Linked DNA regions of Homo sapiens. The protein of the gene in region 2 purifies or fractionates together with the protein of the main gene of each other region. This does not show direct contact. Each region holds a gene or a part of one and is shown on either strand. Other genes may lie near its edges.

What was found.
Region 1: the proteins of CYP51A1 (region 2) and POTEI purify together in Homo sapiens (affinity purification with mass spectrometry; 3 studies listed by BioGRID and IntAct, with this or other methods). This does not show direct contact.
Region 3: the proteins of CYP51A1 (region 2) and CCNY purify together in Homo sapiens (affinity purification with mass spectrometry; 2 studies listed by BioGRID and IntAct, with this or other methods). This does not show direct contact.

What each region holds. Positions count from the first base shown.
Region 1 is NC_000002.12:130,497,191-130,507,921, forward strand, and holds part of POTEI (POTE ankyrin domain family member I), read right to left. Parts: intron 6,705-10,731; coding exon 6,590-6,704; coding exon of another isoform or gene 6,560-6,589; intron 6,430-6,559; coding exon 6,256-6,429; intron 3,453-6,255; coding exon 3,346-3,452; intron 2,032-3,345; coding exon 1,894-2,031; intron 1-1,893.
Region 2 is NC_000007.14:92,115,458-92,126,188, forward strand, and holds part of CYP51A1 (lanosterol 14-alpha demethylase), read right to left. Parts: intron 8,397-10,731; coding exon 8,277-8,396; intron 7,859-8,276; coding exon 7,663-7,858; intron 3,159-7,662; coding exon 3,063-3,158; intron 1,756-3,062; coding exon 1,587-1,755; intron 1-1,586. UniProt on the Homo sapiens protein: Sterol 14alpha-demethylase that plays a critical role in the cholesterol biosynthesis pathway, being cholesterol the major sterol component in mammalian membranes as well as a precursor for bile acid and steroid hormone synthesis.
Region 3 is NC_000010.11:35,338,076-35,348,806, reverse strand, and holds part of CCNY (cyclin-Y), read right to left. Parts: intron 1-10,731. UniProt on the Homo sapiens protein: Positive regulatory subunit of the cyclin-dependent kinases CDK14/PFTK1 and CDK16.

The DNA.
Region 1 (10,731 bases), on a different chromosome or scaffold from region 2:
AAGTCCTAATTTTGCTTCTTAGTTGTCCTACTCTTTATGGCTTATAATTCAGGGCATCTCAACTATGTCATAGTTTATAACTAAATTTATTCATAAATATCTCATTAAAGTAGATAATGTGATTGTCCACTATTACGGAGTTGATCAATCACACCAAGGGCAGAAAAACCAATGGATGTTAAGACCTGACTTGGACCAACGATCCTTCTCTACAGACTCAAACTCTCAGCCAGTAGATGTCTGTTAGGATAATGCTTTATATTGATGTTCAATTCCAGCTGACATGGGAGACCAAAAGTCTACTTTTATTTATTTTAGTTTCCACGGAGAAGTAGCAAGCTGACATTCTGTAATTTTCGACATACATACTAACAATATATTTTGCACCGAACATGTTATTCAGGTCTAAGTCATCTCATAGACCATCTTACATGACTATTTTTGCAGCAGAAATCACAATTTCAATATTTGGGTGGCACCCATTTTGCTTTGATTCACACTATTTCCTCAGAGCTAGTCAGCAAATAGTCAAATGACCTTCCAGTGACTGCACAAAATATGGAATGCTTCAAAGATCTGTGCTGCCTCCTTATGCAGAAGCCACGCTAACTTTCCCCGTATTGTTCCAATTTTAGGATATGTGCCGCCGAAGCAAGCACAAAGCCCTACTTTTACACATGATTAGTGATGCGTCATGGACAAGGCTTGGCTCTGTGAAGTCCAACTAACCTACTTGAGATTCTGAGAATTCTCTTCAATGGCTTCCTGTGAGCTAGAGTTTGAAAATATTTTAAAATCTTGAGCTAGAGATGGAAGTAGCTTCCACGATTTTCATTATCATGTAAATCAGATCACTCAAGGGGCCAACCACAGCTGGGAGCCACTGCTCAGGGGAAGGTTCATATGGGACTTTCTACTGCCCAAGGTTCTATACAGGATATAAAGGTGCCTCACAGTACAGATCTGGTAGCAAAGAAGAAGAAACAAACACTGATCTCTTTCTGCCACATTATTTGAACCCCTCTCACCCTTTAGAACAAGCCCACCTAATATCTGCTAGAGAAAAGACCAACAACAGCCTCAAAGGATCTCTTACCATGAAGGTCTCAGCTAATTCCTGGCTAAGATGTGGGTTCCACATTAGGTTCTGAATATGTGGGGAAGGGTCAATTTGGTCACTTTGTGTGCGGATAAAGTCAAGATGCCCAGCGGCCAGAGCAGGGGGCTGGTGCTCTGGGAACAATGGCTGAGCATATAAGCATAGGTATGGGAATTAAAAAACATCAAAGTCACTGTATGAATCGCCATGAAGACTTGAGGGATCTGAATCTACTGATTCATCTTAAGGCAGCAGGACCAGTTTGAGTGGCCACAAAGCAGCAACAGAATCAACGGAAACAACAGAATGATTGCAATGTCTTTTTTCCTCCTCCTTCTGACTTGATAAAAGGGACTGTCTTCCTTGGATTTAGTAAACCCCTTCGGTTCTTGAAAAATTCAAGGAGTATGTAGGACATAGTGCCCAGAAGACAGTACAAGACTTTCCGCTAAACTGGACATTTCAAGACCCAAATAACTAATCAGAAAAATTAAAGATGTGACACTATTTTTTATCCCATGCATAGGTGTTACACTTGGATCAAATGAACAATGCTGGGATCTCTAAGGATAAAGATCTTAAAAGTCCTGAGATAAAGAATCCCGCACCCATTGGTACTTCTAACTTGTCTTGCTTTTTGTCTGATTTCTGGCTGATGCAGGGGACTAACTCACTGCCACGCGAAAACTACCTGAACCAAACTATGACATCTCACCTGATATGTCAGATGCAACTGTTATAATTATTTTAAACCTCAATTCAGCATTAACTAGCCTTTTAATGTGAACACTTACACATGATGATGACTAGAAACAGCATACTCTCTGGCCGTCTGTCCAGATAGATCTTGAGAAGATACATCAATATTTTGCTCAAGTAGAAGGCTGACTATACTTGCTGATCCACAACATACAGCAAGTATGAGAGCAGTTCTAAAATGACAGAGATAGGAACTGTAATAAAGTTATTTTTAAAGCTAATTTGATATACTTTACCAATGTAACATCTTGCCTGTCTGTGCAGAATCAAACATTTACATGCACTAAAAGACATAAGCATCTTGAGTGCTCAAGTGTTCATCTTTGTAAAATACCACAAAAGTTAAAAGGAAGGGACCAAAAAAAACCCTCTTATCTCAGTGGGGTATTGCATAGCAGAAGCTACTAATTTAACATCCTTTGATGGGCAAGAAACAATGTTAGGGCCACTTATCTGAAGTGGACAAAGATTTAAGTGAAGAGTTTGTCACAGCTTCCCTAGACAGATATGCTGTAATAGAAAATCAGCTAGGGGGTAAGAGAAATAAGAGCTCTCTGCATGCTCAAAGCAGTAATATTAACAATGGTAAGAATAGTAGTCATAGGAGTTTCAGTTAATGGTGCCAATAACCATGTGCTAGGCACTGAATTAAATCCTACATTTATCTTTCTTACTTATGCACAGCCAACTTTTAAGGATATATTCTCCTACTTTTCATACATGACAACACATTTGGTGGTAAATAACATCCCCAAGGTCACACACCTAGCAAGTAAGAAAGTTAGGAATTAACCCAGTCTTGTGTGAATCCAAAGCCTAGCTCTTTTCTCTTTATCACCCACCTACATCTTGCCTTCATTAAAGGAAAAGTGTATCCACTTAAAACTATCTTCACTCCCTCTCTCCATACCAATTAAAACTAAAAACACCAAAATACACTGGAAATAAAAAAGGAAAAAAGCTGTTGAACCCACAGTATGTGGGAACAGCAATTAATTGTCATGTAGCGATAAGCTAACATTAATATTCTTCAAAGAAAGCAACTTAAAGCAGAGTCATTGAAAAGACAAAAGGATTTTCAACCCCTATTTATGTTTAATACAGTATATTTAGTGGAAAAGCATGTAAGACACAGAGGTTAAAAACTATTAGAAAGGGTTAAGAAGTTCAATACTGAGTCATAAAGTAAACTAAAAGTTAAAGTTCAAACTTCATAAAATTAATATGAAATGCCTTTAGCTAACATAAGATCATGTAACCAAAAACGTCACATAACAAATAACATCAGTCAATATAATGAGAAGACGAATCCTACTAAAACTGTTCTTTATGTTGCCCAGTCCAAGTAATTGTTTTTCTACCTAACTGATTTGTGTTGATACTGATCACTACATCCCAGTAAGTATACATTAATCTTATTAATTTAATATTTATGACTTGAGTGACTGCTATCCATCTAGAACACAGATTAAAAGAAAGAACTATACCTTCCATATCTATCCAGCGCATTTAAATTCGCTTTTTTCTTGATTAAAAATTTCACCACTTGCTGTTTTTGCTCATGTACACCAAGTAGCAGTGGTGTGAGGCCATGCTGTAAAACAATATAAAGCAAAAACCTATGTAATTCAAAAAAGTACATATTCCTCAACCGAAGTGGAAACTTTATATAAGATCTTATGGACTTACACGCATAGAAGTAAATAAAATGTAGTCGCTTCCTTCTCACTCTTCTGTGCTTTCCCACACGCTGCTCCTTCCCTTGGAAACACCCCTTCTCTGCCTCACCACAGTACCTCTAATCATCTCAAAAACTCACTTTAAACATTTACTGCTTCCAAGGCTCTTTGCTTCTAAACCAGCATTTGGCATGGTGTTATTGGATGATAATATTTTTCCCATCTAAACAAAAAGCTTCTTGAGGGCAGGGGCTGTATCTTTTGTCTCTATATCCTCAACCCTAAGACAAATTGTGTATAAAGCAAGAATCTGCATGTAAAATATTTCTTTAGTTTCATGTTTTACCAAAAGTTCAACCTCCAACATGCAACAAAAATTGCTGTTAAAACTCATACTGCCCATTTGAAAAAATTTTCCAACATTTATTTATTTAAAATCTATTTGTATTTAATTTTCCCAGATTGTTAACTAAACCATCAGTTCATAGGACTACTGAAACTAAATTAACAGAATTCCTATCTGTATTCTTAATAACTCCATGGTTTTTAGTGTTTAAAACTGCCATGCTGATTATGCCAAAGCTCTACATACTTAAGAGACACACTGGATAGTCCATAATACAGCGTCAATTGACAAAAAATGGTTTAGAATTTGCTACAATTCTAATTGAGAAAACTCTGCTCTTAACGACTTACTGACCTAAGTACTTGAATGACTGAACAAAGAGACACAAAATCCTGAGAGGGCCATACTCACAGCAAATTTCTAAAGACCTTCTGAATGGCAGTGAATAACTGATGGTAGAAAGGAAAAGGTATTATTCTGTAAGCTGATACATACTACCAATAATATTCATTTTAAGGTCTCAACCACAGAGATAAAAGTCAGACTAGGTCAGGAATGGTGGCTCACACCTGTAATCCTAGCATTTGGGGAGGCTGAGGTGGGTGAATCGCTTGAGCCCAGGAGTTCAAGACCAGCCTGAGAAACATGGCAAAAACCTCATCTCTACTGAAAAATAAAAAAAAATAAAAAAAATAAAATAAAATAAAAAAAACTGAGGTTGGAGGACCATCTGAGCTTGGAGAGGTCGAGGCTGCAGTGAGCTGTGATCACACCACTGCATTCCAGCCTGGGAAACAGAGTGAGACCCCATCTCAAAAAAAAAAAAAAAAAAAAAAAAAGTCAGATTAATGTTATTGGAAAGATTTAAAGAAATCAGCACATATCCAACCCCAACTCTTCTAGAGATACCTTAAGTTTCTGAGACATAAGAATTTACATATTACATTTATGTATTGAGTGGTTCTTAAGCAGGAGTGTATCCAGATTTTGAGAAAATTGTTGTTGTTGTCGTCGTCGTTGTTGTTGTTGTTGTTGTTAGAGACAGGGTCTCATTATGTTGACCAGGCTAGACTCGAACTCCTGAGCTCAAGCAATCCTCCCACCTCAGCCTCCCTAGCAGCTGGGACTACAGCCATGCACCACCATGCCTGGCTTCAAGGAAACATTTTCAAATATACATATCCAGGCTTTATTAGACTTACTGTATCAAAATATTCAGAAAAAGCCTAGACTTGTTGATTATTTAAACATTTTCCTCAGGTTACTGGGATGCACAATTCTAGCTGAAAGCTAGTGCAACAGACAATTACTTCAGTCTCATTTCTCACCCATATGACCAGTTCCCTTTCTCATTTGAAGATTTGGCCAAAAAGAGTAAGGAGTAGGAGAGAGACCCATTTGCTGAAAACACCACATGATTTTCCCCGGTAAGAGAAGAACAGGGTCTAGTCAACTCAAAATCCAACTTGATCTTGTTACTTATTTATCTTCCACCTTCCCATCCAGACACTCTAGATTTGAAAGCAGAGCTGAGACTCTAATTGGCCATTTCTACCAGAATAGGATACTAAGTCAGTTAATTACTTGATATTCCCTCTGCTCAAGGGTTTCCCCTTACATTACCACCTATTCACTGCCAATCTGGTTCCTCAGAGGCCTCCTAAAATTGATCTCTATTCAGTTTACAACCCACTAACTCCCTCTCCCAAACTGAAAACTGTCATTCTCTAAAATTGAAGAGAACCTTGTCTCAACATACAAAGGGAACAAATCAATCAACAACGACAACACACACACACACACAACCTCTTCATGGTCTTTTCCCTCTATTACCTAATTTCCAAATTGGCCTTGATATTTCTGATTGCTCTCTTTTCCGCTTTCCACTTCTGCCTCATGAGCAATCAGAAATATCTTAAGCCTTGCCACTGACAGGCGCATCACCTTCGTATCTATTACTGTTTCTTAGGAACTTGCCAAAGGGGCAGGATCTCTATTCATTGAAACATATTTAAGTTTTCTTGGAGTTTTCATGTAAAACCTATTTCAGGGCAAATTTTGCCATTTTACATTCATTAGGGGAAAAAAATCCTAGGAGGGAAAAATTGAAAAATAGTAAGTATTACCTTCTACAAATTCAGTGCTTTCAAAAAAATTATTTACCACAAGCGCATTAAAAAAAAAACTGTACCCTCTAATGCTTCTTTGAAAGTAACAATATTTAAAATGAAGTCTTAGATAATTAGGTCATTTCAAAATATTTTCATTCAGGTTATGCTTGAGCTTCCAAATATGGAAGACTGGCCCTTACACAGGTCAATGTTAAAATGAATGCATTTCAGTATTTGAAGATAAAATTGGTAGATCTATACCTTGTTTTTTGATTCGATATCAGCACCGTATAAGAGCAGTGCTTTGGCCATTAATTTATCTTCATTGTAGATAGCGTAGTGTAGAGTGGTATTTCCATACTCATCTGGAATGTTTGGATCAGTGCCATGTTCCAGCAACATTAACGCACATTCATCTTCCTGGCATTGTACGGCCTGTCAGTATTAGACCAAAAACAAATTACAAATCCTAGGAATTCAAAATAACATTCCACAGCTTTCACCACCTAAGTTATATTTAAAGGAGAAAACTCATTTTTATGCTATGTATTGAAATCAAACCCACCTCATGCTGATATAGTTGGCTACTGCATACCTTTGTCAGAGCTGTCCTCTTTTTGTTGTCAAGGACATTAAGTTGACATCGTCTGTCCAGCAGGAGTTTTACTACTCCTGAATTCCCATTGGCAGAGGCCAGATGTAGAGCAGTCCTATGAGAGTGACAAGACTTTTTAGGAAATTGTAGTGCACTAGCTACAGCCATAGCAATGATTCATGTAATTGCAAACACTGAATAGCCTGCTATTACTCTGCCTTCAAAACAAACATTTAACTTTCCCATGAAAAAAGCACACTATTTATTATCTCTCTTTACTCGCTGTATTAATGAAAGAGCATCCTATATGAATACAAAGAGCATAGCCCTTGGATGACATTCAACTTGAGCTGGAATCCTACTTGAAGCTCTGTCACTTCCTGGCTGTTGCTTAGCCTTTTGGGGTCTCAGTTTCCTCATCAATAAAATAGGAATGAAAATAGTAGCTTTCTTACGGGAAACCACTGTAATGCTTAAATGAGACTCTGCACAAAAGATATAGAATAGTTCCTAACACAAATAACAGCTCAATAATTGTTAGATATTTTAATTTTTACTAATACCACTAAAGACAACATTTGAATTGAGATGATACAATTATACCTGCACTTTCAGGTGTGTTTTAAATATTACAGCTAACATTGTATTTTAGTGATTCTGAGATGATCATTGTCTCCATGTTGTCTCCACTGAAATACCACTTACAATTCATGATTTACTATAATTTGCGGCATTTAAATAATTCTCTTATTGAGGCATAAAATAATGGGGCATCATACAATCCCTGGTGTCTTACATTAAGTAGAATATGTTACAACAGGTCTGGGGCGGTTCCAGTCAGATGACCAGCATTTAGATAAATTTTAGTTCCTAAAAGAACTATGGAATAAGAGAGCAGAGGTGAAAACAAAAACAAATTTCTAAAATAAACCAATTCTTACTTTGGTTTTCAATAAACTTTAAGTCAAAGAAAACTTGGAATTCAAATGAATAGCATGGGCTCATTTTTGTCAACACTTAGATTTATACAATGTATGTACATCAGATATTTCCAATCATTCATATTAGGATTTAAGACTGTTATAAATTTTCTTGTTTTAAAATGGATTTATGAAACTATTTGTGGAGCTTTTTTCAACTTTTACATTCAGGGATACATGTGCTGGATGTGCAGGTTTGTTACATAGGTAAATGTGCACCAAGGGTGTTGGTTGTACAGATTATTTCATTACCCAGGTGTTAAGCCCAGTACCTGTTCATTCTATTTCCTGCTTCTTTCCCTCTTCCCACCCTCCACCCTCTGATAGGCCCCAGTGTGTGTTCCTTCCCTCTAGGTATCTGTGTGTTCTCATCATTTAGCTCCCACCTGTAATTGAGAACGTGCTGTATTTGGTTTTCTCTTCCTATGTTAGTTTGCTAAGGATAATGGCTTTCAACACCATCCATGTCCCTGCAAAGGACATGCTCTCGTTCCTTCTTTTATGGCTGCATATTATTCCATGCTGTTTATGTACCACATTTTAGTTCTTAAAACAACTAAAACAGTCTTTTCCCCAAGACATAAATTTTCAAAAGGGCAGTTAAAGGTTATCTATTACTATTTTCTACCTCCAGAAATGCTTTTGTTTGAAAGGAGGGAGGAAAAGCTTCAATTGAGATTAAGTCCTAATGCCCCAATTTTAAATCTCTCAGCTTGCTCAAGCCCAGCAGGAAAACATGTAGTTTTCAAAGACGGAAGGATCCTGAGAGATAGTAGAATATGCCTGCCACATAATAGGTGTCTGGCTTATGTCTGATGACTAAATGGATAGGAAAAATGGATGAACACAGCTTGGGAGTTCAATATTTTTAAAGAAAACTCCTATAGAGTAGCGCAATACATTTGCAATAGCAATAATCATTTATATTTGCTATTTTAATTTTCATAAATATATAACTCAACTAAAATGATTAATTCATACTTTTTACATGTTAATCTATATATAATGAAAAGATAATTATGGAATAAAATGTATATATAATAAAATCTACAGGAACAGGTAAACACGACCCCTCTTCTTCTGAAGAGGGTAAAAGTTCACAGAAAATAGCCAACCACAGAAATAAAAATAAATAATAGAATGTGAGGAATTATTTGCATCTATGCAAGAAGCATATTCCTTCTCTTCCCAAGGATTATTGCATTAGTAATGAACCTTAACTACAACTTCAGATGTTCATTGCAGAAATCACAGATAAGAGAAAGGGAAAAACTTCACTTACAAATCCCCAGAAACAAGTTTGATTATATTTTCTACAGATTTGCAGCTAACACGAGCAGATTCTGTTCGTGTATATGTGTAACAAACTGATTTTTTTCTCACTTGATATAGCAAAGTACATCTTTGCACGTCGACATATCTCTGTATCTACTGACACCCTCAATAGTTACATATTATTCCATCCTATGGATGCACTGAAATTTGTTCATAAAATCTTTATATGGGTTCTTCTAAATACACTGCTATTTTAAGCAATACTAAGAAAAACACATCTATTTCGTAAAGATATTTCAGTATAATGGAATTGATAAGTAAAAAGCATACACATTTTTAAAATGTAGTTCTTACCACTAAAGTGTCTGTTTGAAAAGCTGCAGCAACTTAAACTTTAAACAACTACATAAGTACCACTGTTCTTCATCCTCACAAACTTTGTGGATGGAAAACAGTATTTCATTCCTTTTTTTTTTTTTTTCTTTTTTTTTTGAGATGGAGTCTCACTCTATCACCCAGGCTGGAATGTAGTGGCGCGATCTCGGCTCACTGCAACCTCCACCTCCCTGGTTCAAGCAATTCTCTTGCTTCAGCCTCCTGAGTAGCTGGGATTACAGGTGCGTGCCACCATGCCCAGCTAATTTTTTGTATTTTTAGTAGAGATGGGATTTCACCACACTGGCCAGGCTGGTCTCAAACTCCTGACTTCATGATCCACCGCCTCAGCCTCCTAAAGTGCTGGGATAACAGGCGTAAGCCACTGCACCCGGCCTTTCATTCCTCTTCTAACTTAAATAGAAAGCAGTATTTCATTCCTCTTCTAACTTAAATTCCTTCTTCTACCAGGAACACTGTATTTTCCTATGTGCATAGGTCACTGGTAGATATGCAAAAAAAGTACTTTGCCCAATTTTAAAATGAGCTTATTTTATTATGTCTGCATATATACACCAGGCACGGTGGCTCACGCCTGTAACCCCAGCACTTGGGGAGGCCAAGGTGGGTGGATCACGAGGACAGGAGTTCAAGACCTGCCTGGCCAAGATGGTGAAACCCCATCTCTAGTAAAAATACAAAACAATTAGCCAGGCATGGTGGCAGGCGCCTGTAATCCCAGCTACTCAGTAGGCTGAAGCAGAGAATTGCTTGAACCTAGGAGGCAGAGGTTGCAGTGAGCCGAGATCACACCACTGCACTCCAGCTTGGGCTACAGAGTGAGACTCCACCAAAAAAAAAAGGATATATATATATATATATATATATATATATATATATATATATATACACACACACACACACACACATATATATGTATATATATACACACACATATATATGTATATATACATATGTATATATATGTATATATGTGTATATATATGTATATATATATATATCTGCGTATATAAATAGGCATTTATATTTTTTCTGGTATGTTTCTCCTTTTGTATGTTTAAAATTTTTAATCTATACTCTTATTTTTGTGACATAAAAATCTAGCTAGTTTTCTCCAAAAATGAATTATGAACAATCCATCTTTTTTAAATAATACAAAACATCACCATTATCAAGTGCTAAATTCTTACATATATTTGGGTATTTCTAAATTTCCTATTCTGTTCTATTCATTGATGTCTTTTCAGCTGTTAGTAAACAATTTGTGGAAATAAATAACACATGCACATTTTGATATCTGGAAAAGCAAGCCTTTTTCCATTCTGTTACAAAAAATTAATTTATCACAATAATAAAAGACAGCATGTGTAATTTAAAAACGCTAAAACTTTGCTATTTTTATTTGGCTTATGTAAAAGTGATAAATAGAAAAAGCTCACATCTTTTTTTTTTTTTTTTTTTTTGAGACGGAATCTCGCTCTGTCTCCCAGG
Region 2 (10,731 bases):
ATGTAGTTACAAGCCAAGGGTTGCCAAGAGCCACCAGAAGCTAGGAAGATGCAAGGAAGGATTCTCCTGTAGAACCTTAAGGAGGAGCACGGTCCTGCCAATACCTTGATTTCACACTTCCAGCCTCCAAAACTGTGATAGAATATATTTCTATTGTTTTAAGCCACCCATATTGTAATTAGTTACAGAAGCCCTAGGAAACTAACACAAAGATTGAAAAAAAGATGGAGGAGACATTATATCTGTACTCAAATACCTCATACAATATAAGTTCAGAGACTATGGTTAGGACCAACTATAAATGAGATGTTAAAAAGAAACAGATTTCAGCTTTAACATAAGGCTCTAAAAATGACAGCTGTCCAAACATAGAATGAGCCATCATAAAAGGTAACTGAACAACCCACAACCCATTTCTAGTAAAGTTCAAGTGGAAACCAGATAATTACTAGTTTAGAAACGATTCCTCTTTGGGGCAGAATTTGGGCTACAGAACTAATGCTCTTCCCATCTGTTAACAATCTGATTCTTTGGCCAGGTGGCATGGCTCACGCCTGTAATCCCAGCACTGTGGGAGGCCAAGGTGGGCAGATTGCTTCAAGCCTGGAATTCGAGACCAGCCTGGCCAACATGGCAAAACCCAGTCTCTACTAAAAGCTCAAAAATTAGCTGAGCGTGGTGGTACACACCTGTAATCCCAGCTACTCAGGAGGCTAAGGCACGAGAATTACTTGAACCCAGAGGTGGAGGTTGCAGTGAGCTGAGAGATTGTGCCACTGCACTCCAGACTGGGTGACAGAGCAAGACTCTCTCAAAAAAAAAACTATGATTCTTTTATATATTGTGTTATACACCACAGTATTAAATTTATTACATAAAGTTAAGATCTGAAGTTCCCAAAGGACTTTATATTTTCCTTTATATGTGGAAAAAGTGTGACCAATGACAAGTCATCTGTCATTTAAATGATCCCTTTGGAAAGACTAAAGCATAGAATATAGTTTAATCAGTACAGAGAACCAATGGACAGAGAAATTACTGGAGAAACAAGGGTATAGCTAAATTATTTTAGGATCTTACTGGAAATGAAATTTGCAAGCCTACACACAACCTGCCCAAATTTAAAGACCATTTTCTCATACGGATATTCAGAGAGCAAAAATGTTGACTAACGATCGAGAAGAGCTTTAATTTTAAAAGACTGCCTTTGCTTTTTTGTGAAATGCTAGTAATCTGTTATTCCCTGAATGGTGTGCTGACTCCAATGGTTCTTTAAAAGAGAATCCACAAAGAGCTTTAAATACCATTGTAAGGGAAAACAAGGATGTTCTATAAAAATTAGACCTAATAAAACCAGACAGGTTAGGAAGTAGTGAAGCATTATATAAGGATTTATGGAACAATTCCATTTGGTACAAAGGAAATATTTTTCTCCAACTTATAAAGATTCTTCTCCTAAAAAAGTTTGCAAAAATGTCCCTATGAGGAAAGGGAGAGATAATTTGTAAACACAATTCGGAATATTTTGACAGAGACAAATATGTTATCAGAACAAACATTTCCAATCTAAAATATAATCATCTTACCAGCTCCAAATGGCACATAGGCAAACTTTTCCCCTGATGCTGGGTTATCCTGTAAGTAGCGATCAGGATTAAAGTCCAGGCGTTCTACCCATGAGTCTTTAAGTCTTTGATTGACAGTGGGAGAAACACACACCTGATGTCCTGGAGGAATGGTATACCCTGCCACAGTCTATAAACAAAAGCCACACATTTCATTAGAGAATTTAAAAATGTGCTGACAAATAATCAGATCATTGTGTAATAAAGCATGAATATACATGGGATACTCAGATGCTCCTTGACTTATGATAGGTTTACATCCTGATAAATCCATCATAAAGTCAAAAAATTATAAGTTGAATCACATAAATCAAGAACCATCTGTACATATATTTAAAAACTGGCTAGATAATAGGCAAACTAAAAATTATTTTAACTCAAGATGATTTCCAGTGAGCCAGCGTTGGGTTGGAAGTACACAGTACACAAATCAAACCCATAATGCCTTGGAGGTAGGGTTGGAATTTCAGAGAGGCTTTCACTATCAATTTGTACACTTCATATTAACAATTTTTTACAACAAAATGTTATTTTTAAAACCAAGAAAAATATGTACTTTGATTTTTAAAACCCCAATTGTTAAAGAAAAATGCAGAACATGATTAGCATTAAAGATTAGCATGTAGGCCGGGCGCGGGATTACACCTGTAATCCCAGCACTTTGGGAGGCCAAGGCGGGTGGATCACCTGAGGTCGGGAGTTCGAGATCAGCCTGACCAACATGGATAAACCCCATCTCTACTAAAATACAAAAAATTAGCCAGGCATGGTGGCATGCCCCTGTAATCCCAGCTACTTGGGAGGCTGAGGCAGAAGAATTGCTTGAACCCGGGAGGCGGAGGTTGCAGTGAGCTGAGATCGCACCACTGCACTCCAGCCTGGGCAACAAGAGTGAAATGCCGTCTCAAAAAAAAAAAAAACAGATTAGCACGTATACTATCTACAATTAGGTAAAAATATGTTTTTAGAGTATATAAAACTGAAGATTAGGTAGAAGTGATTATTCTACTTTTTTAATTTAAAAAAATCTCTTTTATGCTACTCTACTTCCTCTTTTCTTTTTCTTTCTTTTTTATTTTTATTTTTTTTGAGACAGGGTCTTGCTCTGTTGCCCAGGCAGCAATGCAGTGGCGTGATCATGGATTACTGCAGTTTCAACCTCCCAGGCTCAAGCAATCTACCCACATCAGCCTCCCAAGCAGCTGGGACCACAGGCATGTGCCATTATGGCCAGCTAATTTTTAGAAAAAATTTTGTAGAGATGAGGTCAGTCTCACTATGTTGCCCAGGCTGGTCTCAAATTCTGGCCTCAAGTGATCCTCCCACCTCAGCCTCCCAAAGTGTTGAGATTACAGGTGTGAACCACCACACCCACCTATTTCTTCTTTTTGATAAAAACTGGGGGTATAGAGGGGAAGATGTAGCCAAGATACTCACCTGAGGAGTTCTGGCCATTCTCATCATGATCATTATAGGAGGTCTAAGTCTTAATGTTTCTTTTATACAGCGATCAAGTAAATTTAGATCCTTGAGCTAAAATGAGAAAGCATTTCCTGATTGTTATAAATAACATACTTCAACAGTACAAAAAATTAGTTTAACTTCTTAGTTAGTACAAGACAGCTTGCATTCCAGCTAAAAGTACAGAGGTAACTGGTTCAGGGTGGCTGGGGTTATCATGCTCTACCACTGTCCATGGTGAAAAAGGAGGGCAAGGTAACAGAAGCGATTGCCCTGAAGAATGAAGTAAGAACCTACAAAAATTCACTCCTCCAAAAAATGAAAACAGTAGCAACAATCTTAATGTCAACTTTTTCAAAATTCTGGAAGATTAACCAAAGGCTTGCAACAATCTAAGGAGAGTTAATTCAAGAAAAAGAAATCTGAATCTTGGTAAGAAGAGTAAGCTTTGTGGTAGTGTAAGTTGTATTTCTTTCATCCTCCTCTCCCCAAATCCATGGTAGCCCCGGAAACCAACAGCATGACAACTATAGCAGCTGTGAAAGCCAGAAGCCTAACAACTATTAGAGGAGCCAGAGCAAATTTTCCAAAAATATTTAGCAAAAATTGTTTAACACTGAAGGCGCCTGAGATGGTGATATCAGTTGGTGCTAAGAGACAGAACAAGAAGTTTAAAAGGGAAAACTGGGGAGTAAGATGTCCACAGGAGACTTTGAAAAGTTCCAACATAAGAGAATCTTGAAGGCCACACATATGTATAAGACCATGCATATGCCCAGGTAAGATCTAAGAGGCTGTAATCTTTTACCTCTGGCTGACCTGTACACACAGGTAGTGAAGGCAGACTTGTAACTGCCTGTTGGAGTGTTAATAACATCCCCTAACACACACATACAGAGCCTTTCAGCAAAAGCTAGGAGACTGGCTGTTCAAAGCACTTCAGTAAATCTCTGTCCAAATATTAGATGCCCACTAAAGTAAGCAAGCAGAGATTTCAGTGACCTCACTGAACAAGGAATGACATAATTAATCCAGGAAACGCAGTAAACAAACAGCAGCAGCAACAACAACAACAACAAAGAGCCAGCAACAATAAACCCAGGGAGGAGGGCATCTGATTTCCACAGTTGCCACATTATTTTAAATGTACAGTTTTCAACAAAAAAATTACAAAAAACACACCAAAACAGGAAAGTATGGCCAGTACATAGAAAAAGCAAGCAGTTTAATAGAAACTATCCATGAAGAAGCCCAGACATTGGACTTACTAGATAATGAATTTAAATCAGCTATTATAAACAGGTTCAAAGAACTATAGCAAAATATGCCTAGATATCTCTAGTAAAATGGAGAATATCAATATATTATTTTTTTAGAGAACCAAATAGAAATTCAAGAACTGAGAAGTATGAGAACTGAAATGAAAAATTCACCCGAGGGGATCAACAGCAGATTTGGACTGGCAGAAGAAAGAATAACATCAAAAAAATAACAATAATAAAATACTTAAGAATACATTTAACAAGAGAAGTTTAAACATTGTGCACCAAAAACTATAAAACATTGTTGAAAGAAATTAAAGAACTAAAATAAGAGAAAGACATCTCATGTTCACAGATTTAAAGACTAAAATTGTGCTCCCAAATTAATATGGCGATACAATGCAATCATTGTCAAAAATCTCAGCTAGCTTCTTTGCAGAAACTGACACACTGACCCCAAAATTCATATGGAAACTAAAGGGACTAGGAGTAGATAAACAGCCTTGAAAAGGACAAAGTCAGAGGACTCACACTCCCGAATTCAAAACTTATTACAAAACTACGTAATGGCATCAGACTAAACATATCAATGGAATAGAACTGAGTCCAGAAATAAAGCCTTAAATTTATGGTCAAGAGGCTTTTTAAAATGTATTTATTTTTTCAGAGACAGGGTTTCGCTATGTTGCCCAGGCTGGACCCCAAGTCCTGAGCTCAAGCGACCTTCCCATCTCAGCTTCTCAGTAGCTGAGAATACAGGCACGTGCCACTGCGCCTGGCTATAATAGATTTTTTTACAAAGACAATTCAACGTGGAAAAAATAGTCTTTTCAACAAACAGTGTGGGACAACTGGATAAACACATGCAAAAGAATGATGACCTCACATCATATACATAAATTAATTCATAATGGATCAAAGACCTAAATGTAAGATATGAAACTACAAAACACTAAGAAGAATACACAGAAATAAATCTTCATACACTTTGATTAGGCATTAGTTTCTCTGACACCAAAAGCACATTAAAAAAAAATAGATGAACTCTTACAACTCAATAATAAAAAGACAACTCATTTTAAATATGGGAACAGGATGTGAGCAGACATTTCTCCAAAGAAGTATACCAAAGCCAAAGAACACATCATAAGACACTCAACATCACTAGTCACCAGGGAAATGCAAAATCAAAACAAAATACCAACTGGGCATGGTGGCTCACACCTGTAATCCCAGCACTTTGGGAGGCCAAGGCGGGCAGATGACTTGAGGTCAGGAGTTCAAGACCAGCCTGGCCAATATGGTACAACCTTGTCTCTACCAAAAATACAAAAATTAGCCAGGCGTGGTGGTGTGTACCCAGCTACTTGGGAGGCTGAGGAAGGAGAATAGCTTGAACCTGGGAAGCCGAGGTTGCAGTAAGCCAAGGTCGCGCCATTGCACTAGAGCCTGGGCATCACACCAAGACTCTGTCTCAAAAAAAAAAAAAAAAGTATCACTTCACACCTATTATAATAAAAAAATCAAGTAACAAGTTTGGTGAGGGGGTGAAGTCAGGACCAACATATACTGTTTAGTGAGATTTGAAAGTGGTGCAGCCACTTTTTAAAACAGTCTGGCAGTTCTTCAAAGTTACCTTATAACCCAGCAATTCTACTCCTAGGTATGACCCCCCAAAATTGAAAACACATGTCCACATAAAATCAGTACACAAACGTTTAGAGCGGCATTATTCATAATAGTTTAAAAGGTGGAAACAACTCAAATGTCCATCAACTGATGAACAAATAAACAAAATGTGGTCTATCCATATAATGGAATATTATTGGTAATAACAAAGACTGAAGTACTGATACATGCTACAACATGGAAGAACCCTGATAACATGCTAAGTGAAACAAGGTAGTCACAAAAGACTACAAATTGTATGATCCCATTTACATGAAATATCCAGAATAGGCAAACTCACAGAGGCAAAAGGAGATTAATGGTTGCCAGGGGCAGCAGTCAGGGAGAATGAAGCATGACTGCTAATGGGTACCAGCTCTCTTTTGGGAGTGATGTAAATGTTCTAAAATTAAATTATGATGATGGTTTCCCAACTCTTAATATGCTAAAAACCACAAAGTGTACATTTTAAATGGATGGATTTATGCTATGTAAATATATCAGTTAAGCTGTTATTTTAAGTTACTAAAAACAAGAATGAGTGTTGAGACATCACTACTGAGCTTACAGAAATAAAAAGGATTATGAGAATACTATGAACAATTGTATGCCAACAAATTAGGTAACCTAGATGAAATGGACAAATTCCTAGAGAGATATAAACTACTGAAACTGACATAAGAAGAAATGGAATATCTGAATAAACCTGTAACAAATAAATTGAATTAGTAAGTAAAGTCTTCTCAGAAAGAAAAGCACAGATCTAGATGATTTCACTGCTGAATTTTTGCAAATATGTAAAAAAGGATTAACACCAATCATCCACAAACTCTTCCAAAAATTAGAAGAAAAAAAGAATACTTCCAAATACATTCTATGAGATGAGTATGATCCTGATATCAAAACCAGTCAAAGACATCACAGTGAAACTAGAGATCAATATCCTTTATGAATATAGATGCAAAAATCCTCAACAAAACACCAGCAAGTTTATATGTAGTAACATATAGAAAGAACTATGCACCATGACAAAGTAGGATTTATCCCAGGAATACAATTAACATCTGAAAATCAGTGTAATGTGCCATATTAATATAGGACCAAAAGCACAAAAGATAACAGGAAGATGACATCACCAAGGTTTGCTTCCAAGATGGAATGTCAGGTTGTGCAGTGAGTTGTCCTCTCTTCCTTTCCACCCAGCAAGTTGCATGTAGTATTTGTAAATGTCTTGTCCTCATTACTACTACTACTACTACTTTTAGAAGTCTCTGCTCATGCCCAGGCCACTCTGGACATACAGAATTCTAAGTAATTCAGAGGCTTCTACACTTCATAAGACACACAACATGCACATAATATCCTCTATGTACAGAAGCCAGACTTTGAAGCAGAGGAAGTAAGTACCAAAGAAACATCCCCAAGGATCTCTAAGCCATCAACCCAAAACATATCTGATAAAGCTTAATGGCAAGAAGCAATAACATTAAGATATTTTAGGTAAGGTTATAGGGAATTTGCTAAAAATAGAGAAGCTGATCAATTTAAGCTATAGTATATAGAAAATCTCAAATTGTCCCTTTTAAAAATTAGCCACAGATCCTCAAAGTCATAAGGCAGCAATGAAACTGAAAAATCCAACAAACCTGGTCATAAGTTAAAGGAGGCAGATTCTCTCCACAGACTGTTTTCTGTTCTAAATAACATTTTTTTTGAAGTGTTTTGTCTCTGGCCAAAAAGAAGCCCATCCAAGCACTAGTAGTTGAGGATGTATGCTGCCCTGCCAAGAGTAATCCAATAAGCATCCCTGCTACTTCATCATCAGTCAAAGGACGCCCATCCCTAAGGAATGAACCAAAGACACAAATTTAACATTTTGGCAGATACATTTCATGCCTCAACCTTTAAATAAAGTGTCATAATGAATACATTTTTCAGGTATAGTGGTCTCTTATATTTGACTATCACAAGTCAAGAGTTTTTTTTCTCTTAGGGAAGAGACAGACCAGCACAAAACGATTTTGATTACAAAAGACTCCATTACAGTTCATTAGCAAACTTTTACCATACCCAGTCACTGGGATTACAGTAAGACACAGGATGCCAATAGTTTATGTCTCAACAATTTAAAGAGTCCAAAGATCACAGCTACCAACTTATTTTGCCAGCATCACTGTTTTTTAACTGGAAATACTATTTAACTGTGTTTTAATGTGTAATTTCCTGCTTCAGCTTAATATGTTATCTGAATAGCTCTTACTTGTATGTAGCATCTAGTAAAGTTTGGAGAATGTCATCAATTTTTTCTTGAGACTGTCTGCGTTTCTGGATTGCCTTATAGAAAATATCCTTGATTTCCCGATGAGCTCTGTCCCTGCGTCTGTAATTAAAAGATAAAGATGATTTTCTTAAATAAAGAAATAACCTTCTAGGATCAAATTCATTTTGAGAACCAGGACCGAGCATAAAGCATCTTATTTAACCAACTTTAATGACTCTAAAATAATTGACAAAAAAATCAGAACCAGGAACATACTGGAAGTCATGAAAATCTTACATTGTTAAAAATGTCCATAGTCCCTAAGGGCAAGAACTGTGCTTTATTTAACATATATATCCCAGATTCTTAACACATTGCCTGTGTTCAAACTAAAGGCCTAAAACAAGCAAGAAATTCCTTTAGAAGTATTTTCCAGTTCAACAGAAAGTAGGATACTCTTTTAAATTAACATAAAATTCCAATTTTAATACCAAATCAAGTCTTAAAGCAGAAGAGTCACTCTGGTTCTTCCATGGAATCTGGTTCTACTTTTCACTTTCTAATACAATAGTTTTTTGTAGGGGGTGAAAATACTAGCAGATTCAGAAAACAAGCTTCAACTCCTAAACTTTACCTTTAAATAGTATGTTCACTATGTAGCAGGTACCATGTTAAGTGTTTTACATGAATTACTCACTTTTATCTTCCTGTGAGGTACATACTATTAACCTCAAGTTATAGCTAGCTGCATAAGATCACACAGAAAGCAAACATTGGAGCTGGAATTTAAAACTAGGCAGTCTGACTCCCAAGCCCCCTCTTAAATCAAGCCTTCTAAAAAAAACTCCTACTCTGTTTCATTTACAAGACTGTTAATCTGTTATTGAGGATCAACTGAAACCATGTGTACAGAAGAGAAGATGTTGGGGCTTAACTGTATGAATACAGTCGAACCAGGAAAACATAGGCCTGTTTAAGAAAGTGAATTGAATAATCTGGTTAAATTAGTTGGTATGAGTAGAAGAAAGAAAGACTGGGCCAGAATGTGAAGGGCCTAACATAGCAAGCTCTGACTTCATCCAAGAGACAGAGCAGGTAGAAACAGGCAGGTAGAAATGTACATTTATGGGCCAGGTGCAGTGGCTCACGCCTGTAATCCCAGCACTATGGGAGGCCGAGGCGGGCGGATCACAAGGTCGGGAGATCAAGACCATCCTGGCTAACACGGTGAAACCCCATCTCTACTAAAAGTACAAAACAATTAGCCAGGCTTGGTGGCGGGTGCCTGTAGTCCCAGCTACTCGGGAGGCTGAGGCAGGAGAATGGCGTGAACCTGGGAAGCAGAGCTTGCAGTGAGCCGAGCTCATGCCACTGCACTCCAGCCTGGGCGAGAGAGCAAGACTCCATCACCAAAAAAAAAAAAAAAAAAAAGAAATGCACATTTATGGAGAACCCACTATGAGTCCAGGGCTGTGCTGGGTGTTCTAATATAAGATATATGAAAACATTTTGAAACTGCAAAGCTCCTTGCAAATATAAGGTATGATGAGTTCCAGAGAACTTTAGGGAATCTCTCCTGGCTCTTCCTTTTACTCCCACCCCTCTTCCAATCTGTAACTAGATAGAGGGGGCAGAAATAGAAGAAAAGGGACTAGCAATCTATCTCCTCCCCATCTGTCACCTAAACACCAATAAATCAACAAAAGTACAGAAAGCCTACTAATATGCAAAACACTAAGCACTAAGCTATAGATCAAGTCCTAAGAGCAATATTTCTTTATATCAGAGGCAGTCCCTGTCCTTAAGAAACAGAAAATTAAATAAAGGCACAAATATTTAAAACAAAGAAACTTCACAATACAATAAAAAGCCACCAAAGATTTCAAACAAGTGCTAGAGAAGAGCTGTATCACTTTTAGGTATAGTTCAGAGACTTTCCTGAGGATAAGGAATACGTGAGGTAAGCAGGCTTTTAAACTAGGCTGGGCTCAGTGGCTCACGCCTGTAATCCTAACACTTTGGGAGGCTGAGGCAGGTGGATCACCTGAGGTCAGGAGTTTGAAACCAGCCTGGCCAACATGATGAAACCCTGTCTCTACTAAAAATAGAAAAATTAGTTGGGCATGGTGGCACGTGCCTGTAGTCCCAGCTCTCAGGAGGATGAGGCAGGAGAATTGCTTGAACACAGGAGGCAGAGACTGCAGTGAGCCGAGATCACACCACTGCACTACAGCTGGGGCAACAGAGCAAGACTCCATCTCAAAAACAAAAACATAAATAAAATATTAGACTAGACAGACAACAAATCACCTTTTTAATAAACTGAAACTTACTTTAAATGAGCTCATTATATAAAGAAAATTTGTCTTGAATTCTTATAGAAGAAAGGGGATTCATAATCTTACCCATTTTGTATGTTTTACTTGTTTAATTTTTATCTTTGTTAAGGCAAAGC
Region 3 (10,731 bases), on a different chromosome or scaffold from region 2:
CCCTGACTGAGAATCACTGCCATGCTAGCTGTCCAGCCCGAACCATTCTCCAGGGCACAGCACACAGGCACCCAAACATCGCTAAGAATAAAAGCACCCAACCTACTTCTGGCTGCCTGCTGCTGACCTCTCAGGGCCCTGCCGGGCTTTCAGAGCCCTGCTATCTTGCAATGGGGTCCTCCCTGACTCATCCCACCCTGGACGGGGGCTCCTGCTCATATTCTCTGCTCACATCTTACACTTCCAACATCCAGAGACTGCAGGCAGCTTCGTACTGTGAGTGACGAAGTCGTATCCTCCTGCTTCAGAAGAGAACTCAACCAACAGCCAAGTGTGCCTGCAGAGCACACACGGTGCTTAAGATATGTGCCCTAACGGAACCAACAATCTTCCTCAGAAGCCAGTGGTTCGCAAAGCAGCCCTCAGATGGACCCCTCCGTGGTTATGCCTGGCATCATCCTTTCTGAACAGCAAGGTTGCTAGGCTTCCTCCAGACTCCCTACCACCAAATAGGAGAAATGACAAATCAGACATCAGACTTATCTTACAGAAAAGTGGGAGTCGAATATTTGCTAACATTAGAGTGAATAAACAACTTGTAACTCTTCAATAACATCAGCTTTGGCTTTCAGAATATAGAACACAATCTCTAATGCTATATAAACTGCTTATCATCACTTTGCAAGCAAAAGAGCAACAAGCACTACATGGTGCAATAACGGTTCACAGCTTGAGGGAAAAAAGGCTGTGGAAAAATAAGATTATCCCTAAACTGACAAAAGTTAACACTCACTGTAAATGAAAGGAATCCTTGATAAATATGTGCGTCTGAAATTTTTGAAACTGGATTAAACACAGCACCATGACTTCTTTCTCCTCCGGGACTTTGACAGGATACACAGACGAGGAGCTGTAAAACCTGGACTTTTAAACAACTACACAAATTTTACAAACCTACTGTAAGAACCAGAAATAATTTAAAGGATTATTATCATTGCACTAACTGGAATAAATGTATCCAATAAAATCCTGAAAGTCAATTAAAATCCTAAGATCATATAATCATTAATAGACAGAATTCTAAATTTGGAGTGAAATCTTTTCTTGAGAAGCAAAAAACAGAACTCATCCTACCCACCCATACACTAATTCCTCTGATTCATGTTAAATCTGCAGTGTGAGACAAGGAGCTTACCAAATATAAACAAAATATCCTTAATAACTGCTCTTTTTCCTTATTGACCACCAAGAACAGAAGCATCCACCCAAAATAAAGAACTTGCTTATAAAATGTTGTAAGCACTGCACTCACAGTTTTGAAACATATAGCTATATTACATAGAACTCCCATGCAGAGTATTTCCTAGTCAGCCTTCAACAGTCAGAAGGTCTATAATCAGAGGCATCCAAAATAGAAGTGACTTGCATTTCACCACCCAACTGGGATTTCTGCAAAGCTCACAAAGCAAACTGGCACGGATGTGATTGTAGTTGCTAACAATTCTCCTTACTGTGCCCAGCTGTATTTCTCTCAGTACCAGGAGCCAGCTGACATGTCTAAGCTGCTCACACATCTCTGCTGAGCAAGCCACTCAAATACACCATACCCAGTGAAGCCCCACTATACATCCCCAGTACGGGACAATGTGTCTGAAGCCCCACTACACATCCCCAATAAGGGATAATGTGTCTGCAGTGAAGTACTTTTTAATGCAAGTAGTATAACCATGGGAGACTAGACTCAGCCCAGAGTTGTTACCATGGCCCAAAACATTTTACAATTTCTTTTATGAAACTGCCTCTCAGATCAGTTTTTAAACCATACTAAAAAACAAAACAAAACAAAACAATAACAAAAAAGTTTCTTTACAAACTAATGGGGCAACCCATGGTGGCTCACACCTATAATCCCAGCACTTTGGAAGGCCGAGGCGGGCAGATGGCTTGAGCCCAGGAGTTCGAGACCAGCCCGGGCAACAAGGCGTAACCCTGTCTCTACAAAAAATACAAAAATTAGCTGGGCATGGTGGCACACGACTATAGTCCCAGCTACTCAGGAGGCTGAGGTGGGAGGATCACTTAAGCCCAGGAGGCGGAGGTTTGCAGTGAGCTAACGCCACTGCACTCCAGCCTGGGCAACAGAACAAAACCCATCTCAAAAAAACAGTAAAACCTAATGTATAGAATGTCCATCTTCTGACAAAGGTGAAAAAAACAGATTTACAGGTTTTCCACTTATCTATTTGAAAAGCAACCTTCCTGGCAAGGCAACAAAGTGGCAGTCTGGAGTTGGCCAACCCCTGAAATGACCTCTTCTGCCAGAGTCATCAAGAGACTTTACAGGCAAAATCTTGCTGATGTGTGGGATCCACCAATGTGACTTGCCAGGCTGACATGCTCAATTTTAGCTTTAGCACACCCTTCTTTCCAAGCTGGCAAATAGCAAAGGAAGCCCCTAGAAAAAGTAAAGGGAGACAGAGAGCCTAGCAACAGCTACCAGCAACACACAGAGCCAACAGCAAGAAAGAAAAGGTGGGTGGGGTATCTCCTGAGCTCCCTGCAATTGTGGGTCTAGCCAGTTAGATTCCTTTCCTAAAAGAAATGAGAACAACAGCCCCTAATAACCTGCTGAGGAACGCTTGATCTTATTATTTTAGGTAACCAACTACCCTTTATTAAAAAGCAGTATTTTAATATAATAAAGCATATTTATGCATGCCTCAAAATCCTATTCTTTGAATAAATAAATAAGCAAGCAAGCAAGCCCTGGCTCCAGCTTACACCTAAGGGTGCATGCTGACATTCCTAGGAATGTGGTTCCGGGGACACAGTTAGCAGACAGCCTGGGTGGGTTCCATTACCCCAGGAGTCAGGGAAAGCTTCTTCAAATATTCATCCCACTGCTCCTGTGTGGCATCACACTGACTTCAGAAAGATGCAACTCAGAAGAGTAATGAATCTGAGAAATAGTATTTCTATTCCAAATTCTACAGCCAGCAAGCATCCCACTCAAAGGTCAGACAGCTCTATATAACCTTACCCTACCCAGCTCTAAAATTACAGTTATGCTCTGGGACTGCCTTGAAGCCTGCTTTGATGTCTTTGTTAGGATAAGCTCTTTAGGCTTCCAGCTTCTCCAACTATGGACAGTCCAAACATAATTAGGTGGAGATACTGGAGCACACTTCACATATAATACAAGAAAATCAATATGAGTACCACATTCATAATGACATAAGTTCATCTAGTACTTTGTGGCTTTTTAAGCATTTTAGCCTCATTTGGATCCTCATAGTACTACCTCAATGTGTAAGGCGAGTCAGTTTTTTTTTTTTTTTTTGAGATGGAGTCTCACTGTCACCCAGGCTAGAGTGCAGTGGCGCTACCTCGGTTCACTGCAAGCTCCGCCTCCTGGGTTCACGCCATTCTCCTGCCTCAGCCTCCTGAGTAGCTGGGACCACAGGCACCCGCCACCACACCCAGCTAATTTTTTAAAATGCAAATCAAAACCATAATGAGATACCATCTCACACCAGTTAGAATGGCAATCATTAAAAAGTCAGGAAACAACAGGTGCTGGAGAGGATGTGGAGAAATAGGAACATTTTTACACTGTTGGTAGGACGTAAACTAGTTCAACCATTGTGGAAGTCAGTGTGGTGATTCCTCAGGGATCTAGAACTAGAAATACCATTTCGCCCAGCCATCCCATTACTGGGTATATACCCAAAGGATTATAAATCATGCTGCTATAAAGACACATGCACATGCATGTTTATTGCGGCACTATTCACAATAGCAAAGACTTGGAACCAACCCAAATGTCCAACAATGATAGACTGCATTAAGAAGATGTGGCACGTATACACCAGGGAATACTATGCAGCCATAAAAAATGATGAGTTCATGTCCTTTGTAGGGACATGGATGAAGCTGGAAACCATCATTCTCAGCAAACTATCGCACGGACAAAAAACCAAACACGGCATGTTCTCACTCATAGGTGGGAATTGAACAATGAGAACACATGGACACAGGAAGGGGAACATCACACACCGGGGCCTGTTGTCGGGTGGGGGGAGTGGGGAGGGATAGCATTAGGAGATATACCTAATGTTAAATGACGAGTTAATGGGTGCAGCACACCAACATGGCACATGTATACATATGTAATAAACCTGCACATTGTGCACATGTACCCTAAAACTTAAAGTATAATTTAAAAAGTAAAAAAGAAATAAAGTATACCAACTGAAAAAAAAATTTTTTTTGTATTTCTAGTAAAGACCAGTTTTCACCATGTTAGCCAGGATGGTCTTGATCTCCTGACCTCATGATCCGCCTGCCTCAGCCTCCCAAAGTGCTGGGATTACAGGCATGAGCCACGGCGCCCAGCCCAAGGCAAGGCAGTATTTTTAAGCACTTTTTTTAAGCAGAAGAGGAAGGTGAGGCTCAGCAGGACGGAGGCCCCTCAGTAAAAGTAGAACCTCATCTGGAATGCGGGTCTTCCCATTACAAGGCTTCCTCTCTTTGCCCTCCACCATACTTCACAGAGCTGGGAGCACACCCTATAAATCCCCTGAGAAGAGCCTTCTCTGACTTTACCTTCCTTGAGCCTCTCCTTTCTTCAGGAAAGACAGGCTAGAATAATGCTGAGAATCAGAGAAGAAATGGTCTCCTGACCAAGGCTCCAAGCAACAAACTACTCAACATCTGAAGAGGATGAGAAATGCTGCAGGGAAAGTGAACTCTCACCCTTCTTCCAGCTATAAACTGGAAATAATACTGAAAGGATGAGGGACTTACATCAACTGTCATTGCTGGGGACCTACCCTCACAGCCCAATGTTGAATCATGAAAGGATTCACACTTTGAAGTGTGACAAGTATGATACTGTCAATAGCCCTCTTGTGAAAAATAGCACTGTTTCCTCAAAGTCAATCCAATGTGACACACTTGGAGCTAAATCTCTGACCCTATGTGATTAAAACAGAATTTCAAAGCCACACACATATCCTGCTTCTTGGTATTTTTTGGTTCTGCCCCTTGCTGGATAGAAATAAATTTAATCCTTGCATTAGTTTCATCTAGCCAGAAATGTAAAAGCAAGACCATCAGGCCGGAGACTGTGGCTCACACCTATAATCCCAGCATTTTGGGAGGCAGAGGCAGGCAGATCACCTGAGGTCAGGAGTTTGAGATCGGCCTGGCCAACATGGCAAAACCCCGTCTCTACTAAAAGTACAAAAATTAGCCGGACGTGGTGGCACGTGCCTGTAGTCCCAGTTACTTAGGAGGCTGAGGCAGGGGAATTGCTTCAACCCAGGAGGCGGAGGTTGCAGTGAGCCGAGATGGCATCACTGCACTCCAGCCTGGGCAATAAGAGCGAAACTCCGTTTCAAAAAAAAAAAAAAAAAAAAAAAAGACCATCAGCTTTGTAGAGGAGGGTGAGAAGGTGAGAAAATCTACCACTCCATGGAATTATTTAATTTTCATTACTCTCAAAAAGCAGGCAGGAGACTGGGCGCAGTGGCTCATGCCTGTAATCCCAGCATTTTGGGAGGCCAAGGTGGGTGGATCATATGGACCAGCCTGGCCAACATGGTGAAACCCCATCTCTACTAAAAATACAAAAATTAGCTGGGCAGTAGTGGCGTGCACCTGTAATCTCAGCTACTCGGGAGGCTGAGGCAGGAGAATTACTTGAGCCTGGGAGGCAGAGGTTGCAGTGAGCCAAGATCGCGCCACTGCACTCCAGCCAGGGCGAGAGAGTAAAACCCTGTCTTAAAAAAAAAAAAAAAAAAAAGGCAGGCAGGAAAGTAAAAGTCCTTACACAAAATATTGCTAGACAAAAGCATATAGGCAATAACTATGAATCTCTTGAAACAAAGTGGGCTGGGCCAGGCCATCAGGAGGTTCAGATTCTAGACACGGATCATTCTCTAATTAGCTGTCACAGGGCAGTTGAGGCATGGAGGCAAGCTGACAGCAGACCGAACCCCAGCTGCCACTAACAAACTGAGGAACCTTCCGCAAATGCCTTAACCTTTAAGGCTCAATTTCTTCACCTAGAAAATGGGGAGAATGATAAGAAGACTAAGAAAAACAATACAGGTCAAGTAATTAGCACGGTTGTTGGCCGAAAATTAACAAAGTAAATTCTACTACCATCATCCATGATCTGCATGACCTGGGCAAGAAACTACACCTCTCTGAGATTCAGTCTTCCCACCTGTAAAATGGGTGTGTGGAAGCAAACGACTCCCTGATTCTAAGTGAAAGAGAAACATGAAAAGTAAGCAGAGACAGGTCATGGACCCATGGTCAGTGCTATGGAGAATGGCTCTCTTGACAAATCTTTAAACTGCACTTCTCCACACTGCTAACTAATATGAAGTCACATGCTTGGTCGGGGTGTCTCCACATACCTTGCAGACAGCAGGGCTGATAAGTCTTAGCCTGGAAAGAAAGTCCACGGTATGTTCTGCCCACCAGGGCTGGTAATGTTAATGTGGGACCAAGATTCAAGAAAGAGTGCTGCAGAGGTGATGTTAAATAGATTGTAGAGACTCAAGGAAGCCAAGAGCAATATGCAAGCTCATCCTACAGGCACTTAGATTTCAAATTGCCCTGTGTCCCCACTCTTCTAACGGCAAGCAGTTTTGCCAGTTATCCCTCCGCTGCTTGGGATGAGTCCCTGAGGCTTCTAGCTTCTCTGGCTGTAGACAGCCAAAACACCATGTACCTATATCCCATTAGACACTTCATGTTTCAGACAAGAAAATCAACATAAGTGACTATGTTCATAATTGCAGATGTTCATCTAGTATTTTTTGGTTAATTGAGCATTTGAGTCTCAATTTGATCCTTAAGGATGTAAGGCCACAGCTAAAGTCATTCGTTGAAAGAAACAAGGAAAAAAGACTAAACATACCACATTATTAAACAGATTCCCATTAGCCAGGTTTCCTTTCAGCCTGGGTATGCTTTTTTTCTTTTTAAGCTTTAAAACCTTTAAGTTTCATTTTCAGTACTTCACCCTATCTGCTACCTCTCAGGTTAAACTACAAAGCCAAAAAGTTTCACATCCACGCTACTTTCATTATTACAAGTCCTCTTCATTCTCCTTGCCTCCTGTTTCCCCTCACCCAATAAACATACGCGATGATGTTTTCATTCACATCCTTCAATGGTTGGTTTCACTCAACAAATTCATTCAACAAATATTTATAGTATCTTCAAGGAATCAGGTGCTACTCTAGGCACTTGGTTACATCAGTGAACCAAACAATAAATGTTCTATTGGAACTTACATGCTAGTAGCTAGTAGCTAGTATTTATGTTTATACTTATATAGTATATCATAAAGTGTTAAGGAATAAAGAAACAGGAGTGCAGGGAATATGCATTGGGATTGCCAGTGGGCGGCAGAAAGGATGTTTAAAGGTGATTGGGAAGGCCTCCCTGAAAAGGTCAGGCTTGAACCAAGGCTGCAGGTGATAAAGGGACTCAGCCAAGAGAGCACATGGAGGACACTTCAGGCAGAGGGAGAGAACGGGGTGGAAGTTTGTGTCTGGTATGTTCCAGGAAGGGCAAGGAAGGAGGCCAATGTGGCTGGAATGAGCAAGCGACTGAGTGAGCTGATGGCAGGCAGATCCCAAGGGGCCCCAGCGACCACTGTAAGGCTTTTACTTGTGCAATAACGAGTCACTGCCGTTTTTGAGTGAAGGAATAAGTTCAAGTTTTTTAAAGGATCTTAGCCATGGCTGTTGTGTCGAGAACAGACTGGAGCAGGCAAGGGTGGAAGCAGGGAGACCAGGTGGGCTGGGGGAGATGGCAGCTGCTTAAATCTCCAGAAGAGCAGCAGCAGAGGTCTTGAGAGTGGTCAAAGTCTGATATATTCTGAGGGCAGAGAGCCACATTTTCCTACCAGATATGATACAGGACGAGGGAGAAAGTGAGTTGTCAAGGATGACAGGTAAACTATAAAAATGAAAAGAGTGGGCCAGGAGCAGTGGCTCACCCCTGTAATCCCAGCACTTTGGGAGACTGAGGCGGGCAGATCACTTGAGGTCAGGAGTTCGAGACCAGTATAACAAATATGGAGAAACCCCATCTCTACTAAAAATACAAAATTAGCCAGGCGTGGTGGCGCATGCCTGTAATCCCAGCTACTTGGGACGCTGAGGCAGGAGAACTGCTTGAACCCGGGAGGTGGAGGTTGCAGTGAACCAAGATTATGCCACTGCACTCCAGCCTGGGTGACAGAGCAAAACTCCATCTCAAAAAAAAAAAAAAAAAAGAATGAAGTTGCCATCAACCATTTTAAGGTAAAACCCTACAAGGACACTATGGTACAGCTGTTACAAGTATCCTGATTTATTTGGTCTCCTCACATTTTAAATTCTCTTTAGTCCCTCCCTCCCTTTCTCCTCCCACAGAAATAATCTAATCCTGGAAGTCTGGACTGAATAACTGCTGCAGACAGAAGAAGTTTATCCTTGAGAAAGTATGGATATGACTGCAATGACAAGACACCCTATCCCAGAAGGCAACCCCAGACTAGCTAACGTTTGATGGCTAAGTCAAGCAACAATGGAAAGTTTCCATTTGCCATGTATTGGCTGTGTGACTTTGGACAAGTCATTTCTCCTCTCAGTGACTCATTTCTTTGTCTTAAAGTAAGGGTAATATTACCCATAGGGTTACTGTGAGTTCTAAGTAAATGAATGGAATCCAAGTACTTAGAGCGGCAGCTGGTGACAGCTGCTACAGAGTAAGTAATACATAGGCTGCAATTATTACTATCATTTTTTTATTTTCCTAAAGAATTGTTCTGAAGATTACTATTGTTGTTATGTGTTGCTGTTTTTTCTCAATCTCTGAATGATTTTATAAGAAATAATACCTGGAAAGCATGAGTCCAATATCAATTTCAAAAACATGAATAACCTAACACTAAGATAAACTGAGCAAAAAGACACATTAAGTTGCCATTAAGCACCATAGACACCTAAGTTCCCAGACACTAAAATTACTGAAATTCTACAGGACAAGTATTACCCCTTCATGTGCCTGGTGACAAAGGGAAGAAAGCATGGATACATATGTCATATCTCTGTGATTTAAAGACACTAACCTATCATAGAAGACCCATGAACTTCAAACCTTTCTAAACCAGCTGGGTGGGATGTTTTTCAGGACATAAAAAATATGGTATTTGAGTACTTCAGCTTTTGATATATACTAGAGTCAATGATTCTTAAAATGTAGTTTTAAAATGTTTACTAATAACCTAACAATCAATATAACTCAGTTCAAATACATACAGATATAGATGAGCAAATACAGACATATAGATGTATATAGTGTGTATATATATACACTCTATTTAATTAAAACCTGTTCTCTTCTCTCAGCCTCTAATAATGAATTTCTACCAAAAATGTCCCTGAACGGCAGGTAACACTTCCAAGATTTGCCCAGCCAGCAATTCTCAGGCCTACCTGCATCTCAGAATCACCTTGGAGAGATTTAAACATATTAATGGCAATGTCCAGTACTAGATTTCTGGTTTAACTGAAACCAATGTTGAGAACTGCTGGCTGGGTCAATGCTAGAAGTATTATTTATTGAATTTGAGAGACAGAAGGTGAATTAATATTTCGGGGTTTAAACTAGCATAATCATATGAACTGGGATCTGGGATGAGAGGGCACTCCACAGCCTAGATTGGAAACCTGCCCTATACTCTCTCAAACTATCCTGAATCTGCAAAAGAGTCTTCCAAACATTCTCTCAAAAATTCCTGATGACTGAAACTTAAGATTTCTTTGAAATGAAAGAACACACAATATCATTTCACTGTACTCTGGCAAAATTGTACTGAGCCTTAGTGCCAAATACCTGGTTACACTTATTTTTTCCACCTTATTTCCTTACAATAGTCTATAATAACTGTATGCAGCCTGGCTCTAAGAAATGTAAATCTTCTTTTTTTTCTTTTTTGATCCATCATTCAAAACAAAGCCTCCGCTAGATACTGCACAACATAAAAAGGAAATTTACTGCACATCATAAAGAAGACATTATTTCCAAATGTTTTCGCCTGTCAACATAGTATAGGACTGGGTAATGGCTTTCTGTAATAAACTCATTCATTTATTCCTCCCTTTAAAGTACAATACTTACTGTTTATTATATGCTAGACTTTTCTTTCAGGTGCTAGAGGCTGTGAAAGTGATCAAGACCGATCTGGCCTTCATCCTTCTAGATGCCTTTAAATGCATAAATTTAAGAAGAAAGTATGGCTGTAGTTCAAAGACATCTAAGCGTATGTTTAAAATAATGGAAATCTAAAATAACAACACTAGACACGTCATATGGAACCATAATTTACTAAGCGCGTACTAGAAACCAGACGTTGTGTTACTCCCTTTATACATGGCACTCATTTAATAAAGATGCTCTCCTAAAAAGATTAAACTACCATTTAGAAGAAATTACACGAAGACAAACGAGAAAAATCTTTCCTTTAGCAAAGTTTAAATGTGGCCTTTCCACAGTGGAGAGAATCTTCCATCCTAAAGTGGACAGGAACGAATTATGAAGTTGTGTTCATTCATTCACACAAAAATTTCTTCATATTAGTTCAACCAGATTAACTATGAGAAGATGTTTGGGTTAAAAAAATCACCTTGTCATAAAAAGATACTTCCAATTTCAAATCTT